7 linked regions of the Homo sapiens genome follow. The protein of the gene in region 1 interacts with the protein of each later gene in a biochemical or structural test. Each region holds a gene or a part of one and is shown in the gene's direction. Other genes may lie near its edges. The genes, in order: ARHGEF11, AMOTL1, IQSEC2, MAP2K2, PALLD, NHERF1 and RSRC2.

Region 1 (3,500 bases):
TGAACAGCAAGCCTAGTGTCCTTCATTTTCTTTTTGCTTCTAGTCAAACCAGGCAATGTGAGGAACATCATTCAGCACTTTGAGAACAACCAGCAGTATGATGCCCCAGAACCTGGGACACAACGACTCTCGACCGGAAGCTTTCCTGAGGACCTGCTGGAGAGTGACAGGTAGCACTGGCTGGATGGGACTCGCCAGCTGCTCGAAGAGTGGGTCATGGGCAGGGCTGATGCTAGGGTTTAATTCCAGCTACTTGACCCCTCTCCACTAGCTTCTAAGGCTCCCTTTACAGAACTTCCTCCCCACCCCCAGTATCTTCAGGAGACACATTGTGTGCCAGTGAACAGGCCAGTGGAAGAGCAAGCAGATCCCCGACTTCCAGCCCAAGAACTACACACTTTTCAAATTCCCTTTGGATTTATCACCTGACTACTCAGTAGCCTTCATCCAAGATCGAGCTAGGTGATAAAAAGCAGCTAATCAGGAAACCCTAAGTGACAAGGATAAGGAAGACTATAGTGGGGGCAAGAGGGAGTCCTGGGGAAAAAAGACCCAGGCAGGCAAAAGAAAGTGGTTTCCTGTCTGTATGTGAAGAAGAGAGCCAGAGATGAGGTTCTGCTGGGTACTTTAAAGACAAATGATGTAACTATAGGCATCAGATGTCCACCTCAGCAAAGAGAGGCAAAGTGGATTGATTACAAATGGACTGTTTTTCCCTTTTCAAGAAGAAAAAGGGGAATTGAGACTGGCATCTCTCATATTCTTCTTTGGTCAGGTTCTAACTAGAGTCCCCATCTGGTATGAAAACTTGTTCTTGGACTTACTTGCTCTTGATTGTGGCATGACAGCAGTCAAGTCATGTCTAAAATTCTATAGCCAACACTTAAAAACCAACACCACCCTTAAAGGTGACTTAAACAGGTAGAGTAATATGGTCTTGTGTGGGGGGAAATAATGCTTGTGTACAGTCAAGCCTCAGAGCCACTGAGCTGGAGTATAGGCAGGCATGAAAGCAAGTCAGTATGCAGCAGCGTGGATATTCAAGCCATTTTGCCTTCGTTTGTTTGTTTGTTTGTTTTGGGGATTTTTTTTTCTTTTTTAAAGAGACAGGATCTTTCTCTGTCACCCAGGCTGGATTGCAGTGGTGCAATCATAGCTCACTGCAGCCTCAAACTCCTGGGTTCAAGGGATCCTCCCACCTCAGCCTCCTGAGTAACTAGGGATACAGGCATGCACCACTGCACCTGGCTAATTGATTTTTATTTTTATTTTTTTGAGACAGTCTCACTATGTTGCCCAGCTTGGTCTCGAACTCCCAACCACAGCAATCTTCCTGCCTCAGCCTCCCAAAGTGCTAGGATTATAGGCATGAGCCACTGCACCTGGCCTATTTTGCCTTTGAAATAACTAATTATCAAACCATAAGCCAACCTTTCCTGCTTGAATGCAGGTTACTCCTTTCTGTTTATATGAAGCCTTTTTTCAGCTTAACACGTGTTAAAAGATTTTGCTGCCATGAGAATTGACAGATTTACAGGAGACAAAGGTTAGATTTGTACTGGGGGAAGGTTGAGTTCTAACATTAATGGGTAAGTTAAATACGCAAATTATGTGATTCCTGTGGAAGCACATGATGTCGTAGATATATCAAATATTTTAAGATTATAAGACATCAACATTTTGAGAAAATATTTGAGACCATTTACAAAGTTGCATTCTTGGCATTGCTAGGTAAATTTGCCCTAAGACACTTGCTAGGATCCTAAAGCTACTCTAAGCAGAAGCCTTTGGGTTTGATGATTATCAACTCATTGGCAATCTCAGAAGAAATAGTATTAGCAATATGGTGGGTCAGAGATTGTTGTAGATACTCAACAGGTATAAGATGCCCCAGTTCTAGAAGGCAATACCCTAGGAATTTGGGGGCAAAGACAGATGATATGCCTCACTTCTTGGTGAGGAGCATTACTTACTTCTGGGTGCTTGAAGGAAGGTGCTTAGCTCTGCAGCCCCAGTAACTCCACTGGGTGTTTGTTGTGGTGGTACAGTGACCCATTAGGACACTGAAAAGTGTTCCGAGTTAGTCTGGGTTGGGATTGTTCTAACACAATTCTGGAGGGTGAATTCAATAAGGGATCAGTGGGCAGTATGTTTTCTAACCCTGCAGACAAAACCCTCAGGACCCTAGGAGATGAGCTCCATTTTGGATCATCTGGCAGTTTGGGCACAATGAATGGAGACCGAGACATTTAGCTCCTCATTGCAGCAACCTGCTGTGCTATTAAGAGCTCTGCAGACATTTCCAGGCCTCCTGTGGTCCTAGAAGCAGAGCAGGATGTAGATTACTAATAATATCAGAAAACCAGCCCAACAGGGCCACAGCATGGAGGTGGGGTGACCATCCTGGGGCAGCTAGGGGTCAGAGGTGCCAGCTGTCTTGGGCTGATGCACTGCAGGACTCGACACCGCAACACCCAGTCATCAGCATCTCATCAAACCCCAGAGACACTCAGTAGCCAAGCACGGCAGGCCAAGGAGCGGGTCCTGCCTATCAGTAAAAAGGCCCCTTTAAGCACAAGCCTGTCTGCTCTTGAGAGGAAATGGAATCTTAGGAACAGTATTGTTAAGATAAGAATGGAACTCATCCACATCACAACTGGAAGGCTAAGAATCCAGCAGCAGATAGAACTTTCTGACAGGCAGTGTGGAAAATCCTAAAATGAGCTGTGAATATAGTGACTCCACTTTCCTCTTAAGACCTCTTAAAAGAGGTTCGCCTCAGGCAGAGTTAAAGGTGGGAGCTGACCCGTTCCAAAGCAGAGGCAACGTGAACTGGCCACTAGGGGCAGGGAGCTGGGACCTTGTGTTCCCTGTTGAGGGACGATGATGTCTACCACCTTCTTGACAGAAGCATGGTGTCTCAGGCCTCTGGACACACTACAACTCAGAGTCTGTTAGCCCCAGATTTCATCTTCCTGTTAGGATCCCTTCCTAATAGCTCCAGAGGAAGATGACTGTCCATCCATCAGGCTAGGCTGGGGAGAGAGGAGGAGTTTGTAGAGCAGCAAAAATAGTCTGTCATTGAGAAGCTTCCACTGCCATCCAGCTGCTTTGGCCATGTTCAGGAGGAGAACCTGTGGCACGGAGGCATCTTTGAGATGGAGCCACAGGTAAGAGTTAGCCAGGATGTAAGCATGGCCCACTGACTTCCCAAGTCCCAAAGTCTTTTGTCCCTTCCCCCCAGTTCACGCTCAGAGATTCGCCTGGGCCGCTCTGAAAGCCTCAAGGGCCGGGAAGAGATGAAACGGTCTCGAAAGGCAGAGAACGTGCCCCGCTCTCGCAGTGATGTTGACATGGATGCTGCTGCGGAGGCTACTCGCCTGCACCAGTCAGCCTCGTCCTCTACCTCCAGCCTCTCCACCAGGTGGGCAGGGCTACAACGGCTGCACCCATGGACATCTCAGGGGTGGCGGCAAGGATAGAGGGTTGCTGAGAGTTGA
Region 2 (4,508 bases), on another chromosome or scaffold:
AAAGATTCAGAGTTTTTGAGCCAGAATTTATATATTCCAGTCCAAAATAAAGAACATATTTAGCTAATGCACTCTTCTGATGGGCTACACAAAATTTCCAGCAGACTTTTTGACATAATAAAACTAGCCTGTCCCCCTTCACTACCTAAGGGCTTGTGGAACCCTGGGAGCCCTAGGCCTCTTATTTTGCAGATGTGAAAATAGGGCTGAGTAGTTGAGCCATTGATAGATAGGCTCAGTGAGTTACTATCAAAGTTGTGAAAATAACTCAGCATTCTTCCAGAAAAATCATCTTCTACCAGAGAACCTGTTCATCTTGGTTCTTTTTTCTTAGAAAATAGAGAAATTGACTTTAGCTGAAAGCTCACCCTGTTTGAGGCTTTAGAGTTTTTATGCTTCCCTATCCCCTACCTACCCCCGGCCCCCACCGCCAATGCTAGACCCTCTAAATATGGTCCCCAGCCGACTTCGGTCCAGGAATGTGGCCACGGTCATTCTAACTGTACCTCGCTGAAGTCCCAGTCTCCCAAGGTGCCAGAGAAGGTGTACTCTTTTGACATATGACAAAAGACCTGTCTTAACAATTTGGAGATTATCAACATTTGAAGACTCGTACTGTGCTTCATCCTGTATCCCTAAATTACAATTAAAGTCTTTGGGACAGCCTGAGATAAATGTTTCAAGTTTTTCTAGCCAAGTGGCTTTTTATGGAGACTGTTTTGTTTTGTTTTACAGTATTAAAAATCTCCATGCCAAAATCATAGAGAAAGATGCTATGATTAAGGTCCTGCAGCAGCGATCTCGTAAAGATGCCGGGAAGACAGACTCCTCCAGCCTACGTCCTGCCCGCTCCGTTCCATCCATAGCAGCAGCTACTGGGACACACTCTCGCCAGACCTCTCTTACCAGCAGCCAGCTGGCTGAGGAAAAGAAGGAAGAGAAGACCTGGAAGGGGAGCATAGGTGAGCCCCACACCTCTGTCAGACCATGATTGGAAAAGCAAGACCAGACAGCTTCTCTGCCACTCATGGGACACGGAAATGTCCCTGAATAGTTCCTGGTCTCAGTTTACTCATCTGTGAAGTGGGGAGGGAAATCAGTCATACTTCAGTTATAGATATGTGGAAGCATTGTGTAAATTCTAAAGACTGCACCACTGGAGTAGCTCTTAGCCATGGGTTGACTCAGATCAGAATTATCTATTATTGTTGTAAGTTGAGGTGACCCTTATAACACAAAAGGCTCTCATAGAAAAGCCTAGAGACATCACGCCTCTGAACTTGGCTCTGCTCTAGACCAGTTGTATGACGGCTCCACCTCTGCTTCCACGTCTGGAAAGGGAGGACAGTGTCTGCCTGCTTTACCCCATGGGGAGTGGGAGGGAATAATGGGATAATGGGGGGAGGAGAGTGTCTGCCTGCTTTACCCCATGGGGCGTGGGAGGGAAGAATGGGATAATGGTGGGAGGAGAGTGTCTGCCTGCTTTACCCCATGGGGCGTGGGAGGGAAGAATGGGATAATGGGGGGAGGACAGTGTCTGCCTGCTTTACCCCATGGGGCGTGGGAGGGAAGAATGGGATAATGGGGAGAGCACATTGGAAGAAGTGCTCTCTCGCATAAGGTAGGGGTGGTAAGTTTTTGCTGTATTGTTGTTGCATGGGCAGAATTCCCTAAGTGTGGTCTTAGCCAGGAGTAGGTTTCTTGGGGGCAGGCAGGCTTGTTGGCTGGCTGGGCTAGCCAAGCTGGAGGGGAAGCAGGCAGCGTGCTCAGACACAGGTCCTCCACATCCTTCCCCTGCACTCTGGCCTCTCCAGGGGTCTGGCCCTTCTTTGATGCATTTCCCCACATCAGATCGTGTTTTTGTTTCTCTGTGCAGCTGAGAGCCAGTGGTCCTCAGCATAAGACCCCAAAGGAGACTGGCTGCTCTGGGCCAGAGGGGATAAGAGCTTCCATATGAACCCGACAGAGTTGGGGGGATCAAAGGCTCCCAACCAGAATCTGTGTTTGAAGTCCCTCCACTGGTGGCTTCAGCAGCCCCTGCCCCCAAAGGAAATGCACTTCAAAGAAGACGTGTGTGGACAGCAGCTGAGATCATCAAAGACTGTCCCAAGGACATTTAGCTCCCACCCCAGCTAGAGAGCTGGGAGGCAGTGCTGAGCCAGGCCTGGTCAAGGAGTTTGAAAATTTGCTCAGCTCTGGTAGCAACCTCCCTGGGAGTCCCCTGTTTGTGACGTGCAGCCAGGCAGGCATCTCTGGTGTCTGTGCCCGTATGCCCCAGGACCTGGCATGTCTAAACCAGGCCTGGGAGCCGGAGGACTTGTTTGAAGGAAGAGCTGCTGTGTTCCCTGCACTGATATTCCTCCTCATTGTTGTCATTGGTGTCCACGTGTCACAAACACAGGGACTCTCCAAGGGGCTGAGGCAGGTTCATGGGTGACTGCACAGTTCCCCACATGTTGTCACCATTGCTTGCCTGATAGGCTCTGGAAGGAGGTGGAGGTGACAGCATATACCTTCCCAATTGCCCAGGGTATCCCAGGAGCTATGGCTGGCTAGTGACTTATTCAGCCTGTCACTCCCTACGAGGACATCCTGCAGACTCTGGAGTTTCCACAGGCTGGGCGATGAAGTGGAAAGAACATAGGTTGGACTCCAAGTCAGGCACAGTTGGGTTTGAGTCCCATTTCTGCTGCTTCTTAGCTGTGAGATGTTAGTTTTTGTGAGCTTCCATTTCCTTCTCCGTAAGACAGGATAAGGCCTGTCTCGCAGGAATGACATGCAGTATGAAGTGAGATGATGTGGGAAGCGCAGGTGAAGGCCTTTGCTGCTCAGCGTGGTCTGTGGACCAGTGGCACCAGCACCATCTGGGAGCTTCTTAGAAATACAGAATCCCAGGCCCTGCCTGCTGGATCAGGTCTTCCTTTTAACGGTATAGCCAAGTCATTGTTATGCACATTGCATTTTGAAAAGCACTGCTCTCGACAAACTGAACTGCCCTGAGTTCTAAATGGGCACCTTAAAACAGCTCTGGCGAGGATACTTTATGAATTGCTGGCTATCTAACCAGATAAGAGAACAAATACTTGATTGCGCTTACCGCCTTTTCTATAGGCTAGCATTCTAGGGTGCTGGCACTTTCCCGCGTGTGTGCTGTATTTAAAAATAAAAAGTTATCCTCCCACCCAGCTTTCCAGGAAGGCTCTGAGGAAAATGGACACCTCTGCACACCACGCCTCCCATTTCCATAGCCAGCATCCCCTCTTCCCCACCCCAGCCTCACTACTCTTGAGGAAGGGGGTAAGGAGAGGGCTAAGTGGCCTTTCCTAGGAGGCTGGCTGGCTTTCTGCTTCTGGGAGGCTACAGTTCCACCGCAGAAATGTGCAGGTAGCATGTTTATCTTTGAATCCAAGCCTGTGGGGGACCATCATCCATTACAAGGAGTGGGGTGGAATTGTGAACTATTCAGAAGAGCAGCAAGCCAATGGGAACATGTCTAGGACCGGGGAAGCCTTGTAGTTTTTCTTAAGCACACTGCCACGCTTCAGGCCAGCCCTTCTGGGCCACGTTGGTAACAGCAAGCATGGTCTCTGGAAAGCCTTGTGGGAACCTCCCTACCCCTCCTGCTGGCAATTAGGCACTTCTCTGTTCGTCCATACCACCCTGTGAATAATTTATTTGTATCCTACAGTTTATATATTAAGTTATAATCAGTTTACTTGACAACTACTTCTCCACTCCAAAAAAAAAAAACAAAAAAAACACACAAAAAAAACCTACAATTTTTTAGGAAGGGGACTAGGTCTTCCATTTTTTATTCTCTCAGTGTTTGTTATTTTATCAGCCTTGTAATAAGTGTTTATTAAATGCTTGGGGAATGAATCAATGAATGAATGAAGCAATCATCAATCAACAAGGAACAGATCTGCAAGACTAGATTTAAAAAAAAAAAAAGGAAAAAAAGAATGTTGAAAAATCTGTTCTCTGCCCTCAGGATTGCTGCTGGGGAAGGAGCACCATGAGCATGCCTCTGCCCCACTGCTGCCACCCCCACCCACCTCAGCACTGTCCTCCATAGCCTCCACTACGGCAGCCAGCAGTGCCCACGCCAAGACAGGCAGCAAGGACAGCAGCACACAGACTGACAAGAGTGCCGAGCTCTTCTGGCCCAGCATGGCCTCCCTTCCCAGCCGCGGCCGGCTGAGCACGACCCCTGCTCACAGCCCCGTCCTGAAACACCCAGCGGCCAAAGGGACCGCAGAGAAACTGGGTATGTGGGCTACCCCACCTTGATGCCCCTGAAAACTGTGGAACTGTCTGGCCTAAGAGAATCTTTTGTTGAGCTAGAGAGGAAGCAGGGGCACCCATCAGCTCTTACTCTATGGGGATGCTATTCTAATGCACTTAGGATATGTGTGCCCTTTCTTATTACGGGAATAAATATGCATATAGACACATCTAGTTTATTACTATTTGAAATGAGTGCACGGCTTGAGACTACCCTGGCAATG
Region 3 (4,508 bases), on another chromosome or scaffold:
GGAGGAGCCCAGGGAGTTGGGCTTCAGGGTCCGCAGTGTTCTAACCCACCCTGGAGCACTACTTCTTACCTCATTTGCACAGAGCCCCTGTCAGATGGGTGTGTTCGTTTGTTTGTTTGTTTTATGAGTTTCACTCTTGTTGCCCAGACTGAAGTGCAATGGCACACTCTTGACTCACTGCAACCTCCACCTCCTGGGCTCAAGCAATTCTCATGCCTCAGCTTCCCGAGTAGCTGGGATTACAAACACGTGCCACCACCCCCGACTAATTTTTGTATTTTTAGTAGAGACGGGGTTTCACCATGTTGGTCAGGCTGGTCTCGAACTCCTGACCTCAGGTGATCCGCCCACCTCTGCCTCCCAAAGTGCTGGGATTACAGGCATGAGCCACTGCGCCCAGCCTATTATCTTCATTTTTTCAGACAAGGAAACAAGGATCAGAGAGGTACAGTGACCTGCCCGAGGTTATTCAGGCAGATGGAGCCCAGAACTGTCTGGCTTCCAAACCTATGGTACACCGCTGCCTCCCGCAGGTGGGCTTTAAAGACATCAGAGCTACTCCAGGTATGTGGCTCTAGCTTCCTCCAACAGAGCTCCCAGGACCCCTGCTCTAGGCAGGCTCCCTCTCACCATCACCCCCTGAATTTTGGCCATGGTCTCCTAGTAGATTGCCCCTCCTGCTCTCTCTCCATCAAGCCTCTGATGAGGTGCAGCCAGACCATGTTCTGCAGTCCAGCTCCAGTAGTTTCACTCTCTCTTTGGCCTGAGAACTCCTCCGCCTGCCCTGCATGGTCTTCTTAGGATCTGTCCCCAGTTTGCCTTTTTCCTCTCGTCTTTGTACAGACTATGCTCCAGCCAGGCTGACCCGTGTGCCCCCCTGGTTAGCCCACTCAGGCCTTCTGCTAGCCTCTAGGTCTTTGCTCATGTTGTTCCCTTCTCTTGGGCTGCTGTACCCAGTTCCCAGGCTGGACTCAGCTGTTACCTCTCCTATGTCTGTTTGCTGGTGTCTCTGATGTTTGGTCTATCCTTGACCCTCTCAATGAGCACATTGCCCCTTTTTATTCCTTCATGGTTGTTTACATCTCATGTCCCCTCTGTTAGACTGAGACCCCCTTCAGATTTACATTTAACTGACATATACTGAGTGCATTTTGTGTGTCAGGTTCTGTGTTAGGTGCTGTGGGCATGAGTGAAGGAGCTAAAAGCTTGGAAACACATAGCACAGCACATAGTAGCTGCTTAATAAATACTGAGTAGATAAATGAATGTCTGATTGAGTCCTGCTGAACTAATAGCCAAAGGTACCTAATTTTTTCTTCCTTCCAGGACTCCTGTAGTAAGAAATGACAACTTCAGAATTCTCTTGGGGTAGGCACAGTAGCTCCCAGCACTTTGGGAGGTCAAGGCGGGAGGATCACTTGTGCCAGGGAGGTTGAGGTTACAGTGAACTATGATTGTGCCACTGCACTCCAGCCTGGGCAACAAATTGAGATCCCATCCCTAAGGAAAAATAAATTCTTTTGGCTTTTCTGTGGCTTTTTTCTCATGCTCCCTGGAGCCATTTTGGCCTTTGCTGTCTCTTCTCACGCTCACCAGCCTTCCGATTCATAGAATGTCAAGGTAGCAGACTTGGACGAGACTTTGGAGACATTTAGACCAATCTGCTGATCATTATCTCTCCCTGCCATGTCAGGCTGTGGTCCTGACCCTCGATGCCAAGTCTTCTGTTCTGAAAGGAGCAAAGAGGCCTGCACAGGACCTGTGTGCAGTTCACTCAGCCCAGTGGGAAGTTGCTTATTTATCCATCAAACCTTTCTTGAGCTCAGACCCTGAGCTGGACATGGTATCTCAGGGTTGACATAAGACTTGGCCCCTCTGCCTCACTCACTGCAGTGTTCCCTGGCAGGATCATAAACATTGGTCATGGGGAAGAATGCTTAGTAAGTGACTTACTTCCTCTTTTGGGGAAGCTCGTTTAGGGCAACATAATTTGCCAGTTACTATAACTTCCTCATGGTATTTGGTTTCTCTCCAAGCCTGCCTGTTGGAAGCATTTACACGGGGAAGCCCATTCCCCAGTGCTTAGTAGCTGAAGCTCTCTGGGACCTTAGCATTCAGAGAAAGTGTGGTGCCATGGAAGGACTTTGTGTAACTCTAGGCAAATCACTTCACTTTCAGAGCCTCAGTTTTCTCAAGTAGTAAATAGGAATAAAACTGTATTTTCTGATGCATGAGATTCATGTTGCCAGCCCCCTACCTCCCTCAAAAAAATTGTATCAGAAAATTTCCTGGCTGCCTGGCATACCGTACATCAAGGTCCTGATCAGGCTGGAAAGCTGAGAATGGAAAATAATACATGAGACTGCCCTGCCCCCTAGAGGCGGAATGTGGCAAACACACAACAATGCAAAGACCGATGCATCGCATCCCTTTCAAAACAAAGATGACAAGCCAGAGCTACACGGCTGATCAGGATTATTCCTCCAACATTTTAGATGTAAATGTATCACTATCATCACCTAATAGGTACCATTTCACTAATGTTTCACTAGTGCATTTCGTTGGAGCGATGTGATTTTTATACCTTTTTAAAGGAGTGATAGGACTGCATATCCAGGCCCTGTGATTTCCTGCTGGATTCCAGGATACAGCATACTGCATTCACCTGAATAAAACCAATATTTTCCTTCATATAACCACTTTAGAATTATTGTCATTATATCTGTGATGAAAAGTACCTAACTTGGCTCTTCCCCCACATTTTCTTATAAATCTGAGAGGCATCTCTCACAACTGTATATCTGATATGCCAGCCAATTCATAAACAACCCATCTCATTGTGATGGTTGTGAAAATTAAATAAGATGACGTAGGTGAAGCGCTGAGCACACAGTATGTGTTTACTCAGCGATAGCCATTATTATTAATAATAACTCTGTAAAGCTCTGTGCTGTGGGAGGACAGGAGGAGAAACCATGTGGCAGCTCACCACATTTCAGAGAGAGAGGTCAGTCCAGTGAACATTGCATGCCAGGATGTGCCATGCCTTGTGCCATCACAGGCAGAGAATTCTATGATTAGTATATAGTTCCTGGCTTCAAGGTGCTCATAATTGGGTGGAGAAGGTGGTGGTGGAAATAGACGATTGCAGTGTGCTATCCAGTGTGTCATGCCAGAGGGGAGCACAGGGGGCCACAGGTGCTCAAAGGAGAGACATCACCCTGGACTGTCAGGGAAGGCTTACTGGAGGAGGTGATACCTGAGCTGAGGCTTGGAGGATGAGTTTGAGTTAGCTAGGTGAAGAAGGACAGCATGTGGGTTGGTGGGAATTGGGGGCAAAAGGGAGGTTAAGGCAGAGGGGCCAGCATGAGCAAACACACAGAGGTATGGGCCCAGCAGGATATGTGTATGGGGAGGTTTTTTGTTTGTTTGTTTTGTTTTTTTATGAGTTCAGTACAAACTAGAGCACAAACAGAGAGACTCGCAGGGGAGTCTGGAGGGTTGGCCGGCTCACATCTTGAGGACACTTCACTAGCAGCGTCAGGAGCTTTCTGCTGTTTTGTTTTTGTGTTGTTTTTGTTTTTATTTTTTTGAGACGGAGTTTTGCTCTTTCGCCCAGGCTGGAGTGAAGTGGCGTGATCTCAGCTCACTGCAGCCTCTTCCCCGCCCCAGGTTCAAGCAATTCTCCTGCCTCAGCCTCCCGAGTAGCTGGGATTACAGGCGTGTGCCACTATGCCTGGCTAATTTTTGTATTTTTAGTAGAGACAGGGTTTTGCCATATTGGCCAGGCTGGTCTCAAACTCCTGACCTCAGGTGAGCCACCTGCCCTGGCCTCCCAAAGTACTAGGATTACAGGCATGAGCCACCATGCCTGGCCAAGTAGCATTTTAAACTGGGGGAGAGGTGCTTATTGTGGTGTGGGAGAACATGTCAAGAGCCACGTTTTGGAGAGATCCCCCTAGAGGGCAGTTTGGAAGATAGATTGGAGGGTATCCAGGGAGGAGGCTGGTACAGCAGTCTAGATGAGAGATGATCAGGCCTGTGCTTGGGCAGTGGGAGTAGAGATAACCTATGTGGGGAGAAAGATGATGATGGAGGGGAGCGCAGCCTGCTCTGGAAGCTCAGAGGAGTGGCAGCGTTCATGACCAGTAGGGTTTTAATAATACCAGCATAGAAATCAAGAAATCACAAGTTGGAAGGACTCTGACAAATCATCCAACTGAAGCTATTCATTTTACAGATGAAAAGACTGAGGCCCAGAGAGAGAAAGGACTTGTATAAGGCCAGTCAGGGTGTGAGCAGAAAAGAGAACGCTGATTAGAAGAGTCACCCTAGTATGAATGCCAGCATTCAGAGCATCTTTTCTTTTCTTTTCTTTTTTTTTTTTTTGAGATGGAGTCTCTCGTTCTGTCACCCAGGCTGGAGTGCAATGGCGCGATCTCGGCTCACTGCAACCTCCGCCTCCTGGGTTCAAGGGATTCTCCTGCCTCAGCCTCCCGAGTAGCTGG
Region 4 (4,508 bases), on another chromosome or scaffold:
AAGGTAGATTGATAAAAACTGAGAATAGAAGCAGCTTCCACCTGGCCCTGGCTCACTGGAGCTCCCGTCCTGGCACCTCCTCCTGGGCTGTCTGAGCCCTGGCCATACCTGCCCTCTCACCCTGTGTGTCTGCGTCTTCAGCCTGGAGCTGGTGGATGGAGTCACGTGTATGCTTTAGAGGTCTCAAAGCGTGTTGGGTTTTCTAGAACTGCCTTCGGCCTTTCTCTCCAAGCCTAGCTGGGCAGAAGTGGCCAGAGAGCGGCAACCCGGGCACCCCTGAGTCCCAGGATTTCTCCCCCGGCTCCTCCCACCCATGTGAATGAAAGCCATCCCAGGGAAGGCTGGGCTTTTGCAGGAGTCCTGGAGCAGCATGGTGGGGAAATCCAGGCTCCCCAGCCAGCCTCTCCAGGCTCCTCCAGCCCGCCCTCTCTAGCCTCAGTTCCACTTTCCTCTCTGCTGAGCACAGAAGAGACGCACGCCAGACGGTGGCAGTGGGAACTTGGCCTGTCACCCCTGCTGTCCTGGGGGTGGCCTGGCAGGTGTGTCCGGAGCCTCTGCCTCTGAAGAGGCACCTTGGGTGGCTCCCAGTGCCTGGGGTTTTGGCATTTGGGGGTTTTGGTCCCCAGGTTTGTTGCCAGGCAGCCTTGGGCAAGACATGGAATTTCTGTTTCATCATTTATGACATGGATGTGGGGCCACACCCGGGGACCAGCCTACCCATGATGACTCGTTTCCAGGCCCTCCGCAGGATGCCCGGCACAGTGGCGAGGAGACCACAGGCTGTGGGGAGGGGCCGAGGTTACCGTCACCTGGGCTGGCGTCACTGGGATCCCTCCTGCAGTCCATGCACCCCCTGGCCCCTGGTCCTACTCGGCCTGGCCTTTCTGCCCTAGGTGGCAGGGACAGGCGCAGGGCAGACGCCCAGCAGTGGAGCCGCAGGGCTTGGCGAGGGAGCCCCCTGGGGGTCTGGACGGGCACACAGCGACCCGCCGCCTCCTCCCACGCGGGGCAGCACCCGCGTCTCCTCCGCGCCCTCACCCTCCCCTTCCCTTCGTGTGCTGGGAAGAGGACGCAGGCCCAAGACGCTGGTCTCCAGCCTGGCCGCCTCCCGTGGCGCACAGACAAGCCCACCACGTAGGCTGCAGGGAGTGCGGGCCCCACAGCTGCCTGAGCCCCCGGCCGCGGCTTGGGCTGGCCCGGAGCAGAGCCTCTGCCGTGGCGACCTCAGGAGGGCCGAGTCACGCAACTGATTCGAGGATGGGACGGGAGGCGGGGGAACCCTGGGCCCTGTTCCTTCCCCACCTTGTGGGTGGGTGTTCAGACCCAAAGGCAGAACTGTCAGAAGACGCCCTGCCCTTGGCCCGTGGGTGGAGTTGGGCTCCGGCCCCTGCTTCCCGTCAGGAGGCAGACCACCCCCTCGCCGGGAGTGGGGGGACGCATCCGTGGCTTCCCGGCCACCTGCGCAGAGCCTGCACTCACTCCTTGTGTGCCCTCTAGGACGGCGGCTCCCTGGACCAGGTGCTGAAAGAGGCCAAGAGGATTCCCGAGGAGATCCTGGGGAAAGTCAGCATCGCGGTGAGTCCACCGCAGACCCACATCGCGCCCCCACCGCACTCTGCACGGACCTCTTCCACACGGCCAGGGTTCCGGGAGCCACTCACAGTGTGGTGGGGGTTAGGGTGGCCCCTGCAGAAAGAGAGTGGCCAAGGCTGTGCCCACCTGCTGTGGAGCTTGAACAAGTGACGTCCCTTTTGGGGCCTGAGGTCACCATCTGCCAAGTGAAGACGTTATAGGTCCCTCTTCACTCTTAGTATCCTCTGTTTGCCACACTGGTCCCCTCTGCCCCTCGTGGCAGGGGGATGTTGGCAGCTGGCACGTTGCAGGGGACAGGAGCTTGTTGAAAGGGAGACTCTGGGGTGGGATGTGGGACGCCAGGACCTCCAGACACACTCACCATTGCTGTTAGAAATGTCACCGGGGCCAAGGGCGTCTCTGCTGCCCGGTCTCCAGCACAGCTGCTCCGTAGAGCCGTGTGGTTTCAGCAGACCGTGCGTGTTGCTTCTTGGAGCTTGCACCTTGTCCATAGCAGGGGCCGAGTCCCGCCTGCCCATACCAGTGTTGGATTAAGACACAGGACGCATGCTGCCAGACACGCGTTTCCGAGTTGAAAGCTGCCGTCACACTGCCTGTGCTGCTTGCTTCACTTCTCGGGATGCTGCTTCCAGGGCGGGCCTGGGGGAAACATCGTCCTTCCCAGGCACCCTTAGCCCGTCCCATCTGGGGGCCCTTAGCACAGTCCCTGGGACCCCAGATGCTGCCTTTCAGGCTGATGTGGGCAAACTCGGCAGCCCAGCCTACTCCCGGGCCATGGGCCACCATCTCAGCTTCCCTGGGGCTAAGCCGTGTGCTCTGAATCAAAGGCAGTAGTGGCATCGGCGGCACTGCGGCCATGGGAACCGGGGTTGACTTGCACACGCCAGCACAGGGCTGTCAGCACTGTCTCGTCTCTGGCCTCGCTTGCTCCACCCCAGCGAGCTCCTCACAGCCTGAAATGGTTCCTGCCGCAGCTCCCTCGCTCCAGCTCTGACTGCTCAGCTCTGACCCCCGGGCTCGGTCAGGAGCTAAGCCCTGGTGGCCTTGTCCCGTGACTCCCTCCGCGCTCCCCTGCAGGTTCTCCGGGGCTTGGCGTACCTCCGAGAGAAGCACCAGATCATGCACCGAGGTAAGGCCCAGCCCGCCCTCCCCAGAGCCCCGGGGGCCGGCAGGCAACTGTTGGGCGCCCCTCACCCGCAGCCTGCCGCCTCCAGATGTGAAGCCCTCCAACATCCTCGTGAACTCTAGAGGGGAGATCAAGCTGTGTGACTTCGGGGTGAGCGGCCAGCTCATCGACTCCATGGCCAACTCCTTCGTGGGCACGCGCTCCTACATGGCTGTGAGTCCCCGCTGGCTCTCCCCTCCAGCTCTCCTCCCTGCTGCTCTCCCCCAAGCTCTCCCCACCCAGCTCTGCCAGCCAGCTCTCCCCCTCAGCTCTCACCCCCATGTCTCCTGCGCAGCTGTCCCTCCCAGTTCTCCTGCGCAGCTCTCCCCGCCTCCCACGAGGCTTTCCCAACTATTTCGTGGGCACACACTCCTACATGGCTGTTAGCACCCCCGGGACAGTCCCACCCCAGCTGCACCCTCCCCTTCATCAGCTCTCCCCACTTGCCACAAGGCACGTCTAAAGCTGGTGCCTCCTGGGAGCCTGCTTTTCGGATTCCCCTTGCTCTTTATTTTTTATTTGTTAATTTACTAATCTTTTGTAGACACGGGGTCTCGCTGTATTGCCCAGGCTGCTCATGAACTCCTGGACTCAAGTGACCTTCTTTCCTCAGCCTCCCAAAGTGCTGGGATTCCACTAGCAGTGAGCCTGAGCCACCACGCCCGGCCAGATCTCCCCTTCCTGTTGGAATTCTCTCTTAGGTTTTTGTCTCTAGCAGTGCCTACCAGGTTTCTTTCTTTTTTTTTTTTTTTTTTTTTTTTTTGAGACAGAGTCTTGCTCTGTCACCCAGGCTGGAGTGCAATGGCACAATCTTGGCTCATTGCAACCTCCGCCTCCCACCCGGGAGCAATTCTCCTGCCTCAGCCTTCCAAGCAGCTGGGGCTACAGGCATGTGCCACCACAGCTGGGTAATTTGGTTTTTGTTTTTGTTGTTGTTGTTGTTTTTTGAGACACAGTCTCACACTCTCACCCAGGCTGGAGTGCAGTGGCGCCATCTCCGCTCACTGCAAGCTCCGCCTCCCGGATTCACACCATTCTCCTGCCTCAGCCTCCCGAGTAGCTGGGACTACAGGCGCTCGCCACCACGCCCGGCTAATTTTTTGTGTTTTTAGTAGAGACAGGGTTTCACCATGTCAGCCAGGATGGTCTCAATCTGACCTTGTGATCCGCCCGCCTCGGCCTCCCAAAGTGCTGGGATTACAGGCGTGAGCCACCGTGCCCGGCAGCCTTGGCTAACTTTTAAAAAAATGTTTTTAGTAGAGATGGGGTCTCGCCATATTGGCTAGCCTAGTCTTAACTCCTGGGCTTCCACCTCAACCTCCCAAAGTGCTGGGATTACAGGCATGGGCCACTGCACCCGGCCCTTAGTTAATTTCTGGACCAAGGAATTGGAATCTGGGGTCTTTCAGGAAACGACTGGGGATTCAGCAACCTGCCAAATTGAGCCTTGGAGCAGCCTCTGAGATGTTAGCTGTGGAGGAGGAGGCCCCTGCTTCCTGGGGCCCATCATCCATTCCCAAAAGTGCTGAGCATTGCAGGCTCTTCAAGAGCTGCGGTCAACACCAGCTCCAGGCCTCGGGCTGGAAGCCTCTTCAGCAAGTGCCGCAGGGAGGCCCTGGGTGGGTGAGCCGGGAGGTAGAATTGCGTAACAGCTCTCTATCCATTGCTGCGGTCATTAGCCATGGAGAGGGTGACGGGGGCTGTAACGGGGCAAGCCTCCCGGGTTCCAGCTGCCATCCTCGCCCCTCTG
Region 5 (4,508 bases), on another chromosome or scaffold:
TTCTCCTTTCCAGTACATTTCCATTTTCCTATCCTAAGTTTTATGCAAAATAATTTTGTGTGGAGAAACACATTTTCGCCGACATTGTCTGAAATAACTAGTGAATATTTCCCATTAGAGTTGGACCTTGAACAACACGGGAGTTAGGGGGACCAACCCCAAGCACAGTTAAAAACCCACATATGGCCGGGCACAGTGGCTCATGCCTGTAATTGTAGCACTTTGGGAGGCTGAGGTGGGTGGATCACGAGGTCAGGAGATCGAGACCATCGTGGCCAACATGGTGAAACCCCGTCTCTACTAAAAATACAAAAATTAGCCAGGTGTGGTGACGCACACCTGTAGTCCCAGCTACTCGGGAAGCTGAGGCAGGAGAATTGCTTGAACCCGGGAGGTGGAGGTTGCAGTGAGCTGAGGTTGTACCACTGCACTCCAGCCTGGCAGCAGAGTGAGACTTCGTCTCCAAAACAAAACAAAACTAAAAACACATATACGACTTTTGACTCTTCAAAAACTTAACTAACAGCCTACTGTTGACCAGAAGCCTTACTGATAACAAAGAGTTGATTAACACGTATTCTGTATGTTATATGTATTATAGACTGTAGTCTTAAAGTAAGCTAGAGAAAAGAAAATGTTACAAAGAACATCTTAAGGAATAGAAGATACATTTACAATTCATTAAGTGGAAGTGGGTCATCATAAAGGTCTTCATCCTCATTGTCTTAAATTAGAGTGGTCTGAAGAGAAGAAGACAAGGGGTTGGTCTTGCTTATCTCAGGGGTTGCAGAAGCGGAAGAAAATCCATATATAAGTGGACCCATGCAGTTCAAACCTGTGTTGTTCAAAGATCAACTGTTTAGTCTTAATATCTAGTCAAAATAAAATAGAAAATATTATCTCTTTATCTTCTTTCACATATATACAGATGTTCTTCAACTTAGTATGGGGTTATGTCCTGATAAACTCATTATAAGTTGAAAATATTGTAAGTTGAAAGTGCATTTAAGGCGGGGCGCAGTGGCTTACGCCTGTGATCCCAGCACTTTGGGAGGCCAAGACCGGGTGGATTACCTGAGGTCAGGAGTTCAAGACCAGCCTGACCAACATGGTGAAACCCCGTCTCTACTGAAAATACAAAAATTAGCCGGGTGTGGTGGCGTGCGCCTGTAGTCCCAGCTACGCGGGAGGCTGAGACATGAGAATCGCTTGAACCCAGGAGACAGAGGTTACAGTGAGCCAAGATCGTGCCACTGCACTCCAGCCAGGTGACAGAGCGAGACTCCATCTCAAAAAAAAAAAAAAAAGTGCATTTAATACACCTAACCTACTGAACATCTTAGGTTAGCCTAGTCTATCTTAAATGTGCTCACAACACTTACATTAGCTTACAGTTGGGCAAAATCATCTAACACAAAGCCTATTTAAAATAAAGTATTGAATATCTCATGTGATTTATGGAGTCCTGTACCAAAAGTGAGAAGCAGAATGGTTGTGTGAGTACTCACAGCACCGTTACTACCAAACGCATATTGCTAGCACAAAAGTTTCACTTAAGGAAAATTAGAAATCTTGCTGCATTCTTATTATTTCTATTATTAGTCTTCACATCTTTTTTTCTACCATTACAGGACATTGGTTCTCCTCATGCTTCTGTAGGGAGTCCTCTGGATGGTCAAAAGGTTAAGCTTTTCACCTTTCTTCTCCTTCCAGTCTTTCTCTGTGTCTGTTTTCTTCTGTTCTTCCTGTTTTACGTGTGTTTCTATCTTTTCTGCCATATATTAATTATAAATGCTATGACCAGTGTCTGTTTCATTTAATATCAGATACACAAAATTACTGCAACATGAGTTTTCTTGTCATGTATTTACCAGCTTGAATTTATTTATTTATTTTTACTTTATGTATTTATTTATTTATTTATTTATTTTGAGATGGAGTTTCGCTCTTGTTGCCCAGGCTGGAGTGCAATGGTGTGATCTTGGCTCACTGCAACCTCTGTCTCCTGGGTTCAAGCGATTCTCCTGCCTCAGCCTCCCAAGTAGCTGGGATTACAAGTGCATGCCAACATGCCTGGCTAATTTTGTATTTTTAGCAGAGATGGGGTTTCACCATGTTGGTCAGGCTGGTCTCGAACTTCTGACCTCAGGTGATCCACCCGCCTTGGCTTCCCAAAGCGCTGGGAATACGGCATGAGCCACAGTGCCTGGCCTCTGACTTGAATTTAATTCTGTCATTAGTGGATACTCTGAACATTAAATCAAGAAAAATTTTTCATTTGTTATATATACCTTTCTATGGGGAACAAAAGTGCTAATTCTTCAAGGGATTAATTTGATAGTAATTAGATGAAGCAAAACAACTTGTGGTATAACTCTTGCAGTTTTATTCATACTGTTGTATTTCTTCCCTCAAACCAACAAACTTGTTTTTTAAACACTGAGTAACTTCTTTAAGAGAAAACATAGTTAAAGTTATCTTTCATTTAATATTAAATAGGGAATATTTACATAGACTCCCTTGTCTTCATTGCACTTTTTTGTTTTGGAGACAGGGTCTCACTCTTTTGCCCAGGCTTGAGTGCAGTGGCACAATCACGGCCCACTGCAGCCTCGACTTCCCAGGCTCAAGTGATCCTCCCACCTCAGCCTCCCAAGTAGCTGGGACAACAGGCATGTACCACCATGCCCAGCTACTGTTCTTTTTAAATTTTTTGTAGAGATGGGGTCTCACTTTGTTGCCCAAGCTGGTCTCAAACTCCTGGCCAGAAGCAATCCTCCCACCTCGGCCTTCCAAAGTGTTGGGAATTACAGGCATGAGCCACTGTACCTGGCCTTTAATGCACTTTGTAGGCAAGGAAATTGTAGGATCCACCGTAATCACCACAGGAATGTTGATGGGTTGTTTTTTTTTTTTAAAGCAAAATTTTGGCTAGACTGTCAGTCCTATTTTTTCTTCTAAAGATGGTGGGTTCCTAACAGCTGCAGAGCTGAGGAGGCGGCCCTTGCAAGGCAGGGATTGTTAGAGGTGGGGGAAAAAAAACAAACATTTTTTTTTTTCTATTATTCTTTTACTATTTTTTCTATTACCATTTTTTCTAGTACCATTTTTTCTATTATTCTTTTACTATAATTGTATATAATATGGCAGCTGCTTGCCACATGTACTATGTGGAGAGATGTACCACCCTGCATCAGCTTTTACCCTACAGAAGGAAATCAGCGTTCCATTATATTTTATTGTTATCAACAGTTTAGGAATACATAGCTTTGCTTTTGCCTTTTTCTTTCCTTCCCCTTGTTTCCCCTCGCCTCAGAGAAAAGAAGGAAAAAAAAATTCATCTTTCCTACCCCCCTCTTTTTGGATGATAGGACTTGAAGACAATCTGAAATACCACATAAACTCACTTCCAGATGTTTTTTGTTTCATATGCAATTGAATTGGGCTCAGACTGTGTTTTTAAGCTGTATGGTAAAAATATCACTGTCTTCTAGGGCCTTATTGGGGGGCAGGGAGAGACGTGACACTTTGTCAGAAGGGATTGAGTCTGCTAACTTAAACTTTCCTTGATTCAGGAATACAAAGTCTCCAGCTGTGAACAGAGACTCATCAGTGAAATAGAGTACAGGCTAGAAAGGTCTCCTGTGGATGAATCAGGTGATGAAGTTCAGTATGGAGATGTGCCTGTGGAAAATGGAATGGCACCATTCTTTGAGATGAAGCTGAAACATTACAAGATCTTTGAGGGAATGCCAGTAACTTTCACATGTAGAGTGGCTGGAAATCCAAAGCCAAAGGTGAGCTGGGAGATGGAGGCTTTTTAAGAGTCATTCTCTGAGGAAAGGTTTAGCTTCCAAAACATAGCATGCCAGTAGGAGAAAGAGATACAAATGATCTTTCTCAATACCCACGATATAAAGGGTTTTAAATATTCTTAAGTTCTGGGCCATCTTCAGGAGGCATTAGAAACCAAAAAAGGTGGTGGGGGGAGTGGAGTTTGGGTTTGAAGAATAGAGAATAACTAACAGGGAGCTCTTCACACACCTATATCATTTATTCCTCGTTGTTATTCCCAAATCACAAATAACTAAACTGAGTTCTGTGAAGTGAGTTTCCAAGGTCAGAGAGCTGGTGAGTGGCCAGGCCTGCATATGAACCCAGTGCTCTGTACCATACAGACAAGTAATGCTCACCACTGGTTGTAAAAACTTCCAATCTTTAATCAAAAAACCAAGGCTGCTTATATTAATATTTACAGAGGGAGGTGGGGTGAAGAATATTGTTTAGAACGGATAATGACAAATTCTGATACCATGCAGGACTAGGATGACCTGGATGGGAGCTCTCTCCATACAAACATATGGAAATGCTGGATAAGGAGCTGCCCTATCTTTAAAGGAAGGACTAGAATAACTGTTTACTAGCCCAGCAAGGCAGTAAACAGGAGTACACTTTTCCCTAGAGCTTGAGTGAAAAGAATAAAAAAAAGGGAAAAAATTAAAACCCCT
Region 6 (4,508 bases), on another chromosome or scaffold:
CTTACTAAATGCTGAACTGCACTCCTTCATGCCTGGCGTTTGAATCCCAGCTCCTCTAAACTGACTCCTAGTCAACACCATTGAGTCCTTCTAGCAGAAAATCCTCTCCTCTCAATCCTGTGTGTTGAGCATACAGACACCCATGTGGTTATTAGAAAAAATGTTAACAGACATTGTAAGAGTTCGTTTTTCTAAAACACACCCGTTTCCTACATAAAGCATCAAATGGAGGTTTGCCAATTCGTTTTAGTCTGAATTTGTGTGCAAGGTGGGGCTGTTCCCTTGTCTTCATTAGCCCTCCACTTACTAAGTGATGATATCAGTGGAAAAGTGTGGCGCAGAGAGTGGTTGGCTGGGTGGCCTCTGGCTGGGAAGACCAGCTGTGTCCAGAACCACTCAGGGCAGAGGCTGAGGGGTGCCTGTAACACTGGCCATCCCCGCTGGGGAGTCTAGGCCTAAGGAGGTGGAAGTGGCTCTCCAGCTCTGCCCACCGGCTTTGCTTTGTGGATGGCCTTCCCCGCCTGCCCCGTGGGGAGAGAGGAGCAGCAAGACCCGCCCTGCTGTTCCCCTGCTTAAAGCCCTCCTCCCCCCATTCACCACCAGTCACAGGATGAGGCCTAAACCCTTGAGTCTGGGTTCAGAGTGCCGGCCGGGCAGAGCCGAGCCAGCTCAGCTGTACTAGCCAGGCTGTGCGAAGCCAAGTTACCTCACCTCTGTAAGCCTCCATTTCCTCTTGTGTAAGTTGGGGGTTATGGCAGCTACCTCGGAATTGCATGAGGCTGTGTGTAAAGCACGTAGCTCAGTGCCTGGCACTGAGTCCAGGCTCAGCCAGCCTTTGCAGTTGGTATTGGAATGAATACATATTTCATAGTGATCATTGCACACCTATCATGGGGCAGCTAGCGCTGGGTCAGCCTGCCTAGTTGGGCAAATGCCACTGTGGCCAAGCCTGGCACACAGTCAGTGCCTGATCGATGGTCACTGTGGGTTAAGAATGATACGTTGTGGCCAGGTGTGGTGGCTCACACCTGTAATCCCAGCACTTTGGGAGGCCAAAGTGGGAGGATCGCCTGAGCCCAGGAGTTTGAGACCAGCCTAGGCAACATGACAAGACCCTGTCTCTATTAAATTTTTTCTTTTTTTTTTTTAAGAGTTATATGCTGTTCCATGGCCCTTCTCCATCTGGCAGCCTGTTCTCACCACTGCCTCCCTACCCCCAAAACCACACCCAGGGTCCGAATTCCCCTCTAGCCTCTAAGCCTTCACACCCTGACACTTCTGTCCCCTCCCAGGGAGCCTGTCCTTAATCCAGTAGGCAGAGTTAGCATTTCCTTTCCTTCACTTTTTTTGTTTTTGTTTTTGTTTTTGTTTTTTTTGAGACAGATTCCACCCAGGCTGGAGTGGTGTCGCAACCTCGCCTCGCTGCAGCCTCGACCTCCAGGGCTCAATCGATCCTCCCACCTCATTCTCCCTAGTAGCTGGGACTACAGGCATGCACCACTATTCCCAGCTAATTTTTAAATTCTTTGTAGAGATGGAGTTTCACCGTGTTGCCCAGGCTGGTCTTGAACTCCTGGGCTGAGGTGATCTGCCAGCCTCGGCCTCCGCCTCCTCTTTGTCCTTACATCTTTTATCGCTCTAAACACACAATATTTTAATCATCTGTTTGTGACCTTTTTCTCCACTACGTGGTAAGCCCAAGGGCATCAACTGTGGCCTATTTGTGTTTCTATCCCCAGCGCTGTCCTTGGCACATGGTAGGGAGGCTCTCAAAAACAGTTTTTGAATTAATGAATGAATATATAACAACAGTCAGGGACCTTTGTCCTCATTCAGCTCATCCCGCCCCGCCCAGAGATTGGAATTCCAGATAGAACCTACCCACTCTTCTTTCTTGCCTGCTAGCAGCTTCTATTTGAAAACTAGAAAGCCAAAAGTCCAGGCTTTGGGGTCAGCCAGATCAGTGTTTGAATCCCAGCTCTGCCGTGTGCTGGTTCTGGGATCCTGGGAGTTCATTTTTCCCTGCAACCCTCAGCCTCCACCTCTGTGAAAGGCACTGCCTGCAGGGTTATTGGGAAGATTTGGTGGCATGACAGGTTTGTAAATGAAAGTGCTAGTTTGGGGTGTTTCCTGCCAGCCCTGACCCTGATCCCAGAGTCAGAGTGCAGGCACCCCAGGGAGCAAGGTGGGTGGTGGGGCACAGTTAGCTGGAGGGCCATCAACCTCTTTCCCAGGGCGGGCGGGCCATTTTACACCAACCAAGTTGGAGCTCTGGTAGGGCAGAACAGAGCTTGAGCTGCTGGGTGTTTGGATTTGAAATGGACAGGGTATGTGATTGTTTGTGTGTTGGGATCTCTTTCTTTGCTGGCAAAACAGTGTAGCCCCTGGTTCTTACCTTCAAGCTCCTGTTAACTCAGTAATTCTGGAGATGATTCTCTTGGAGATAGATGGGGGCTTCCTGGCCGGGCGCAGTGACTTGTGCCTGTAATCCCATCACTTCGGGAGGCTGAGGCGGGAGGATCGCTTAAGCCCAGGAGTTTGAGACCAGCCTGGGCAACATAGTGAGACCTCGTCTCTACCAAAAAAACAGGGGGAGGGGGGTGAATGGGGGCTTCCTTCTCAAGGAACTCCATATGTCTAGATGGGGTCCTTCTCCCCTTTCCCAGATGTCCCATCTCAATGGTCCCTGGGAAAGTGGGGTGGGAAATTAATAAGAAACTCAGGCCAGGCACGGTGGCTCACGCCTGTAATCCCAGCACTTTGGGAGGCCGAGGCGGGTGGATCAGTTGAGGTCAGGAGTTGAGGTCAGGAGTTCAAGACCAGCCTGGCCAACATGGTAAAAACCCATCTCTACTAAAAATACAAAAATTAGCGAGGCGTGGTGGCAGGTGCCTGTAATCCCAGCTACTCGGGAGTCTGAGGCAGGAGAATGGCTTGAACCTGGGAGGTGGAGGTTTCAGTGAGCCGAGATCGCGCCACTGCACTCCAGCCCGAGCAGCAGAGTGAGACTCATCTCCAAAATAAAAAAAAAAGAAAGAAGAAGCTCAGCCGAGGTCTTGTTGGTGCTGCAGGACTCTTTACAGGGAGAAACCAGAGCTCTAGACCCCAATAACAAATGTTCCTCTGTTTTCGTTGCTCTAAGATAGAGTGGCCCTACCTGGAAGGAAACAGGTTTGTACAGTGCCTTTAGGCACTCTACCTATGACATAAAGATGTTGACATGCATTTCTTTCTTTCTTTCTTTCTTTCTTTCTTTTTTTTTTTTTTTTTTTTCCTGAGACAGTCTTGCTCTGTTGCCCAGGCTGGAGTGCAGTGGTGTGATCTCGGCTCACTGCAACCTCCGTCTCTCAAGTTCAAGCAATTGTCCTGCCTCAGCCTTCCATGTAGCTAGGATTACAAACACCCGCCACCACACCCTGCTAATTTTTGTATTTTTAGTAGAGACGGAGTTTCACCACGGTGGCCAGGCTGGGTGGCACCTGTCACAACACCCTGCTAATTTTTGTATTTTTAGTAGAGATGGGGTTTCACCACATTGGCCAGGCTGGTTTCAAACTCCTGACCTCAGGTAATCCACCTGCCTCGGTCTCCCAAAGTGCTGGGATTATAGGCATGAGCCACCACACCCAGCCAATATGCATTTCATTGTCCCCCAGACAAATTAGCTATTGTTTTCTCTATTTTGTAGGTTGACAGTAAGTGTTCAATACATGATAGCTACTATTTGTGTCTAGCACTGTGCTAAGTACTAACCTTGCCTGTCTCATTTAATCCACATGACCACCAGTGAGGCAGATATTGGCCCCATTCTCTGCCTATGGAGGCTGAGGCTTGATCAGTTAAGGTGGCCATGGCGGGTCCCAGGACTCTGAGCTAGCGACTCCTCCCACACAGCGCAGGGGTGTGTCTTGGAACCCAACCCTCTGACTCTAGTGCCTGCACAGCCATTTGGCCACATGAGTAGGCTGTGCTTGAAGCCTGACTCTGCCAGGTGTTTCTGCCCATCATATTCTGAGCCACAGCTGGACCATCACAGTGGTATAAATTCAGGCTGCTTGAACTGGCTTCCTGTAAGGATCCAGGGCTTCCAGGTGCTCCTGTCCCTAGCAGGGCATCCTTGCAGTGCCTCAGCCCATAAGTGGCAGGCTCCTGTCCCCATCCCTTCTCACGTGATGTGATAGGTCAATCTGGAATCTGGTAACCAAGTATCTACCCCCGCCCTCACTCCCCAGAACCTGCACAGAGAGCCCCCCTCAAGGGTGGTCTTCACTGTTGACCGAAGCCTTCCCCTCATGGTAGGACAACTCACCATGTCCCCAGACTCCTAGGCAATGTTTAGGTCCCTAGGCCCTAGAAAAGGACAAGAGTTACAGATTCCCTGAGGTCCAGGTCACCTCGGGGTGGTGTGGGAACACACAGAGAATGCTGGCCAGGTTCAAGTCCCACTCACTGCTGGGTGCTGAGAGCTCTGAATTCTCCGAGACAGGCTGCAGCCTCTCCCTGTGCTA
Region 7 (4,508 bases), on another chromosome or scaffold:
CAGTATTTCCCATATTTTGAAAAATAGACTTTTTAGGTTTTGATTTTTTTTTCTCTCGTTACAAAATTAAGGTGTTTTGTTTTTTGAGACAGGGTCCCACCCAGGCTGGAGTGCAGTGGCACATGATGACGGCTCACTGCATACTTGAATTCCTGGGCCCAAGCAATCCTCCCACCTCAGCCTCTCAAGTAGTTGGGACCACAGGCATGCCTGGCTAATTTTTGTATTTTTTGTAGAGAAGACGGGGTCTCCCTATGTTGCCCAGGCTGGTAACACAGTGTAACCTGATGTGCTTCCCTGGGAACCCAGCCTGACAGAAACTGCAGCTGAACAGCAGCAAAAGTGTGAGCTCACCCCTTCTTTCCATTCACCTTAGTGAATGGTATTAATTCCAAATCTTCAATGGCCATTTTAATGCAACCAGTTGTAGTCACACGTATCTTCTTTCTGAAACTAGTATGGAAATAATTTACTATAAAATTGGATTTAGTATATGCTAGATTGTAATTTCATTAACTCTGACAAATATTTTTTAAGCTCTTATTTACTTGAATGCCATAAGTCTATTCTGTTTGTGTTTTTGGATTTTTTTAAAAGTGAAGCCGTTAATAGCATCCAAAATGTCATTGATATATAGATTACTTGGTGATCTTTCAGATAAAGTTTTAAATGTAGTTCTTTAATTTCAGAATATGAGATTATTTACTACCTTGAAATCTGGAGAATTTTTTTCTTAAGAAACTACCATGTATAGACCTTTTATATTGGTTTCTTTTTTGGCTTAAAGGTCAGGATTTAAAACTGTTTAGGAAATACATTTCAGATCTGTGACCTACTTTTTTTATTTTTTATTTTTATTTTATTTTATTTATTTATTTATTTATTTATTTATTTATTTATTTATTTATTTATTTTTGAGACGGAGTCTTGCTCTGTTGCCCAGGCTGGAGTGCAGGAGCATGATCTTGGCTCACTGCAACCTCTGCCTTCTGGGTTCAGGCAATTCTCGTGCCTCAGCCTCCCAAGAAGCTGGGATTACTGATGCGCATCACCACACCCAGCTAATTTTTGTTTTCTTTTTAATAGAGACGGGTTTTGCCATGTTGGCCAAGCTGGTCTCGAACTGCTGGCCTCAAGCAGTCTTCCCACCTTGGCCTCCCAAAGTGCTAGGATTACAGGCATGAGCCACCTTGCCAAGCCTGCGACCTACATTTTATTGTTACTGCTAATTTACAAACTTTTATTCTCAAGGACAAAGTCAAGTCTATGTTATGCCTTCCATGCATATGTGCTTCATAAAAGGGAATAAAATTATAGCTTGTTATATTTCTTTTATGTAAATTTCAACAATTTTTTTTTTTCCTTTTCCTCTTTTTTTTTTTTTGAGATGAAGTCTTGTTGCCTAGGCTGGAGTGCAGTGGTGTGATCTCAGCTTACTGCAACCCCTGCCTCCTGGGTTCAAGCGATTCTCCTGCCTCAGCACCCCAAGTAGCTGAGATTACAGGCGCCCACCACCACGCCCTGCTAATTTTTTGTATTTTTAGTAGATGCGGGATTTCACCATGTTAATAACCAAGCTGGACTCTAACTCCTGACCTCAGGTGATCCACCCACCTCAGCCTCCCATAGTGTTGGAATTACAGGCGAGAGGCGTGGCGCCGGGCCGACTTAACAATTCTTAAAGCAAATCCAATTTACTACCCCTGCATTGTATTACCCATAGTGCCCCAAAACAAAAACAAGTTTTGTCAGTCCTGTCCCCTTTATACCACATTACAGAGGGCGTTAGTGGCATTTGGCTTGATTGATAAATCAGGGAATCCTTAGGAAGAAAAGAGTTCCTCTTTCAGGAATTCATTGTGAAGATAATGTTACTTGTTATTTGCTATATAGAAAGGGTAAACTTAACATATAGCTTGTTTAGTGTGCATACTCATTAGTGAATTTAATGTATGCACACTACTCATTCAACAGAGTGAGTAGAGAGAACAAGCATTCATTTTTGGGCTGGGCATGGTGGCTCACGCCTGTAATGCCAGCACTTCGGGAGGCCAAGGCGGGCGGATCAGAAGGTCAGGAGTTTGAGACCAGGCTGACCAACATTGGTGAAACCCCATCTCTACTAAAAATACAAACATTAGCTGGGCATGGTGGTGTGTACCTGTAATCCCGGCTACACAGGAGGCTGAGGCAGGAGAATCGCTTGAACCCAGGAGGCGGAGGTTGCAGTGAGCCAAGGTCGTGCCATTGCACTCCAGCCTGGGCAACAGAGTGAGACTGTCTCAAAAAAAAATTCATTTTTGTTTTGGGATGAATTTGTGTTTCATGTTACTAGTTCCTTTGTAAATGATAAATTTGTTCAACTGCTAGAAGTAATTTCCTAATTGAGAAAAGTTTTCCTCCCATTTTATTAGATTACAGAGAATGGCAAGGTTTGCTTGACCTTTTAGTTTTGGCTTTTTGATTTTTATTAAATTGAAGACTTTACTAAGGTCTGTACAATATAAAAAATTATCCGAATGTCTTGATCGGCTGGCTTTTTCTCCCTCAAGAAACATTTAGATAATTCTATAAATTTATTTACTACTTAACCATGCTCTAAAATTTACTCAGCTTTCAATATGTTACTTGCAAGACGTAATTTTTTTCACTTGTTAATTGGAACTGCATATAAAAACTATGCCCATTTCTGACTAGTCAATTCAAAAATGTTTAAAACCACTGTTGTGGTATTCTTCAAATGTAGCTTATATCATCTTAAGAATGATTGCTTTTTCTTCACATACGGCTATCGGTGGAGGGATGCTAAAAATTTAAAATTTTATGGAAGTTGGCTTGTCTCTGTACATGCACATATAGAGAGATATATACATAATGGTTTTATATTGTGTTATTTTAAATTCATTGAAATTAATTTTGCAGGTTGGAAAGGGCAAAGAAATTACAAGAACAGCGAGAAAAGGAAATGGTTGAAAAACAAAAACAACAAGAAATAGCTGCAGGTAATTTTTTTCATTCTTTTTTAGTCATCTCGATTTGAGCTCTTTCAAGCTTTTTTGTTTTTCACAGGGATTTGCTCTGTCATTCTGACTGGAGTGCAGTGGCTCCAGCATAGCGCATGGTAGCCTCAAACTCCCAGGCTCAAGTGATCCTCCCACCTCAGCCTACCGAGTAGCTGGGACTGCAGGTCCCACATCACCATGCATGGCTAATTTTTTTCTTATTTTTTGTAGAGAGGACCTTTCACTATGTTGCCAAGACTATTCTTGATCTCGGGCTTAAGCAGTCCTCCTGCCCCAGCCTCCCAAAGTGCTGGGATTGCAGGCATGAGCCACTGCACCCAGCCTAAGTTTGACATGCTTTTTGTAGAAAAATTGAAAAATATAGAAAATAATAGGAAGAAAATCACCTATGATTCCTACTTCCCATCAGTACACTGTAAACGTGTATTTTAGTGTTCTCACTTAAGTGTTTTGTAGCTTGTTTCTGATGTGGTCCATGTGGATAATTTTTGTTGATAAATTAGTAATGAGTATGTTTGTTTATGTAACACTAGTCATCATGACAGATCTTGTTGTTGTTGTTACGGAGTCTCGCTCCATCGCCCAGGCTGGAGTGCAGTGGCGTGATCTCAGCTTACTGCAACCTCTGCCTCTTGGATTTAAGCGATTCTCCGCCTCAGCCTCCCCTGTAGCTGGGACTACAGGTGTGCACCACCACATCTAGCTAATTTTTGTATTTTTAGTAGAGACGGGGTTTCACCGTGTTGAACCAGGATGGTGTCGATCTCTTGACCTGGTGATCGTCCTTCTTGGCCTCCCGAAGTGCTGGGATTACAGGCATGAGCCACCACGCCCGGCCCCAGATGTCTTTTACGATTTTGGAAATGTAGTTTATGCAAGAAAGTGAACTGATCTGAAATATGTATTTCTCTTTCAAGAAATCAAGTTTTTATGCGTAACAAACATTGCAGATTTCAAAAATTATCAGGCCTGGCTCAGTGACTCACTTCTGTAATCCCAGCACTTTGGGAGGCCAAGGCAGGTGGGTCACCTGAGGTCAGTAGTTCAAGACCAGCCTGGCCAACATGGCAAAACCCCATCTCTGCTAAAAATACAAAAATTAGCCAGGCGTGGTTGTGTGTGCCTATAGTCCCAGCTACTCAGGAGGCTTGAACTCGGGAGGTAGAGGTTGCAGTGAGCCAACATCACGCCATTGCACTCTAGCCTGGGTGACAGAGTGAGACCCTGTCTCACGAAAAAGAAAAAAACAAAAACAAAAAACAAAAAATTATCACGAAGAGCTTACTGTTGATTTGGTATGAAATTTAATCTGGAAGATGGTTTTTTGTTGTTTTTTACATTTTTGGTAAACAGTGGCACTTATTTGAAACTCTAAAAGTTTACAAATAGCCATTTTATTTTTACTACATCATTACTCTCTTTGGTAACTCTGGTTCCCATAATGTTGGTAATTTAAGTACTTTTTAAGGTTATATTCTGGACTGA

Evidence for each region.
Region 2: the proteins of ARHGEF11 (region 1) and AMOTL1 interact in a test that uses a peptide from one of them, tested with the Homo sapiens proteins (one large-scale study listed by IntAct).
Region 3: the proteins of ARHGEF11 (region 1) and IQSEC2 interact in a test that uses a peptide from one of them, tested with the Homo sapiens proteins (one large-scale study listed by IntAct).
Region 4: the proteins of ARHGEF11 (region 1) and MAP2K2 interact in a test that uses a peptide from one of them, tested with the Homo sapiens proteins (one large-scale study listed by IntAct).
Region 5: the proteins of ARHGEF11 (region 1) and PALLD interact in a test that uses a peptide from one of them, tested with the Homo sapiens proteins (one large-scale study listed by IntAct).
Region 6: the proteins of ARHGEF11 (region 1) and NHERF1 interact in a test that uses a peptide from one of them, tested with the Homo sapiens proteins (one large-scale study listed by IntAct).
Region 7: the proteins of ARHGEF11 (region 1) and RSRC2 interact in a test that uses a peptide from one of them, tested with the Homo sapiens proteins (one large-scale study listed by IntAct).

What each region holds. Positions count from the first base shown.
Region 1 is NC_000001.11:156,948,243-156,951,742, reverse strand, and holds part of ARHGEF11 (rho guanine nucleotide exchange factor 11), read left to right. Parts: intron 1-43; coding exon 44-170; intron 171-1,725; exon of another isoform or gene 1,726-3,117; coding exon of another isoform or gene 3,118-3,170; intron 3,171-3,223; coding exon of another isoform or gene 3,224-3,244; coding exon 3,245-3,424; intron 3,425-3,500. UniProt on the Homo sapiens protein: May play a role in the regulation of RhoA GTPase by guanine nucleotide-binding alpha-12 (GNA12) and alpha-13 (GNA13). Acts as guanine nucleotide exchange factor (GEF) for RhoA GTPase and may act as GTPase-activating protein (GAP) for GNA12 and GNA13.
Region 2 is NC_000011.10:94,865,207-94,869,714, forward strand, and holds part of AMOTL1 (angiomotin-like protein 1), read left to right. Parts: intron 1-735; coding exon 736-962; intron 963-3,991; coding exon 3,992-4,267; intron 4,268-4,508. UniProt on the Homo sapiens protein: Inhibits the Wnt/beta-catenin signaling pathway, probably by recruiting CTNNB1 to recycling endosomes and hence preventing its translocation to the nucleus.
Region 3 is NC_000023.11:53,311,003-53,315,510, reverse strand, and holds part of IQSEC2 (IQ motif and SEC7 domain-containing protein 2), read left to right. Parts: intron 1-4,508. UniProt on the Homo sapiens protein: Is a guanine nucleotide exchange factor for the ARF GTP-binding proteins.
Region 4 is NC_000019.10:4,099,443-4,103,950, reverse strand, and holds part of MAP2K2 (dual specificity mitogen-activated protein kinase kinase 2), read left to right. Parts: intron 1-744; exon of another isoform or gene 745-1,134; intron 1,135-1,497; coding exon 1,498-1,575; intron 1,576-2,670; coding exon 2,671-2,722; intron 2,723-2,807; coding exon 2,808-2,932; intron 2,933-4,508. UniProt on the Homo sapiens protein: Catalyzes the concomitant phosphorylation of a threonine and a tyrosine residue in a Thr-Glu-Tyr sequence located in MAP kinases. Activates the ERK1 and ERK2 MAP kinases.
Region 5 is NC_000004.12:168,894,918-168,899,425, forward strand, and holds part of PALLD (palladin), read left to right. Parts: intron 1-675; exon of another isoform or gene 676-835; intron 836-1,631; coding exon 1,632-1,682; intron 1,683-3,575; coding exon 3,576-3,797; intron 3,798-4,508. UniProt on the Homo sapiens protein: Cytoskeletal protein required for organization of normal actin cytoskeleton. Roles in establishing cell morphology, motility, cell adhesion and cell-extracellular matrix interactions in a variety of cell types.
Region 6 is NC_000017.11:74,751,147-74,755,654, forward strand, and holds part of NHERF1 (Na(+)/H(+) exchange regulatory cofactor NHE-RF1), read left to right. Parts: intron 1-4,508. UniProt on the Homo sapiens protein: Scaffold protein that connects plasma membrane proteins with members of the ezrin/moesin/radixin family and thereby helps to link them to the actin cytoskeleton and to regulate their surface expression. Necessary for recycling of internalized ADRB2.
Region 7 is NC_000012.12:122,509,603-122,514,110, reverse strand, and holds part of RSRC2 (arginine/serine-rich coiled-coil protein 2), read left to right. Parts: intron 1-236; exon of another isoform or gene 237-344; intron 345-2,922; coding exon 2,923-3,002; intron 3,003-4,508.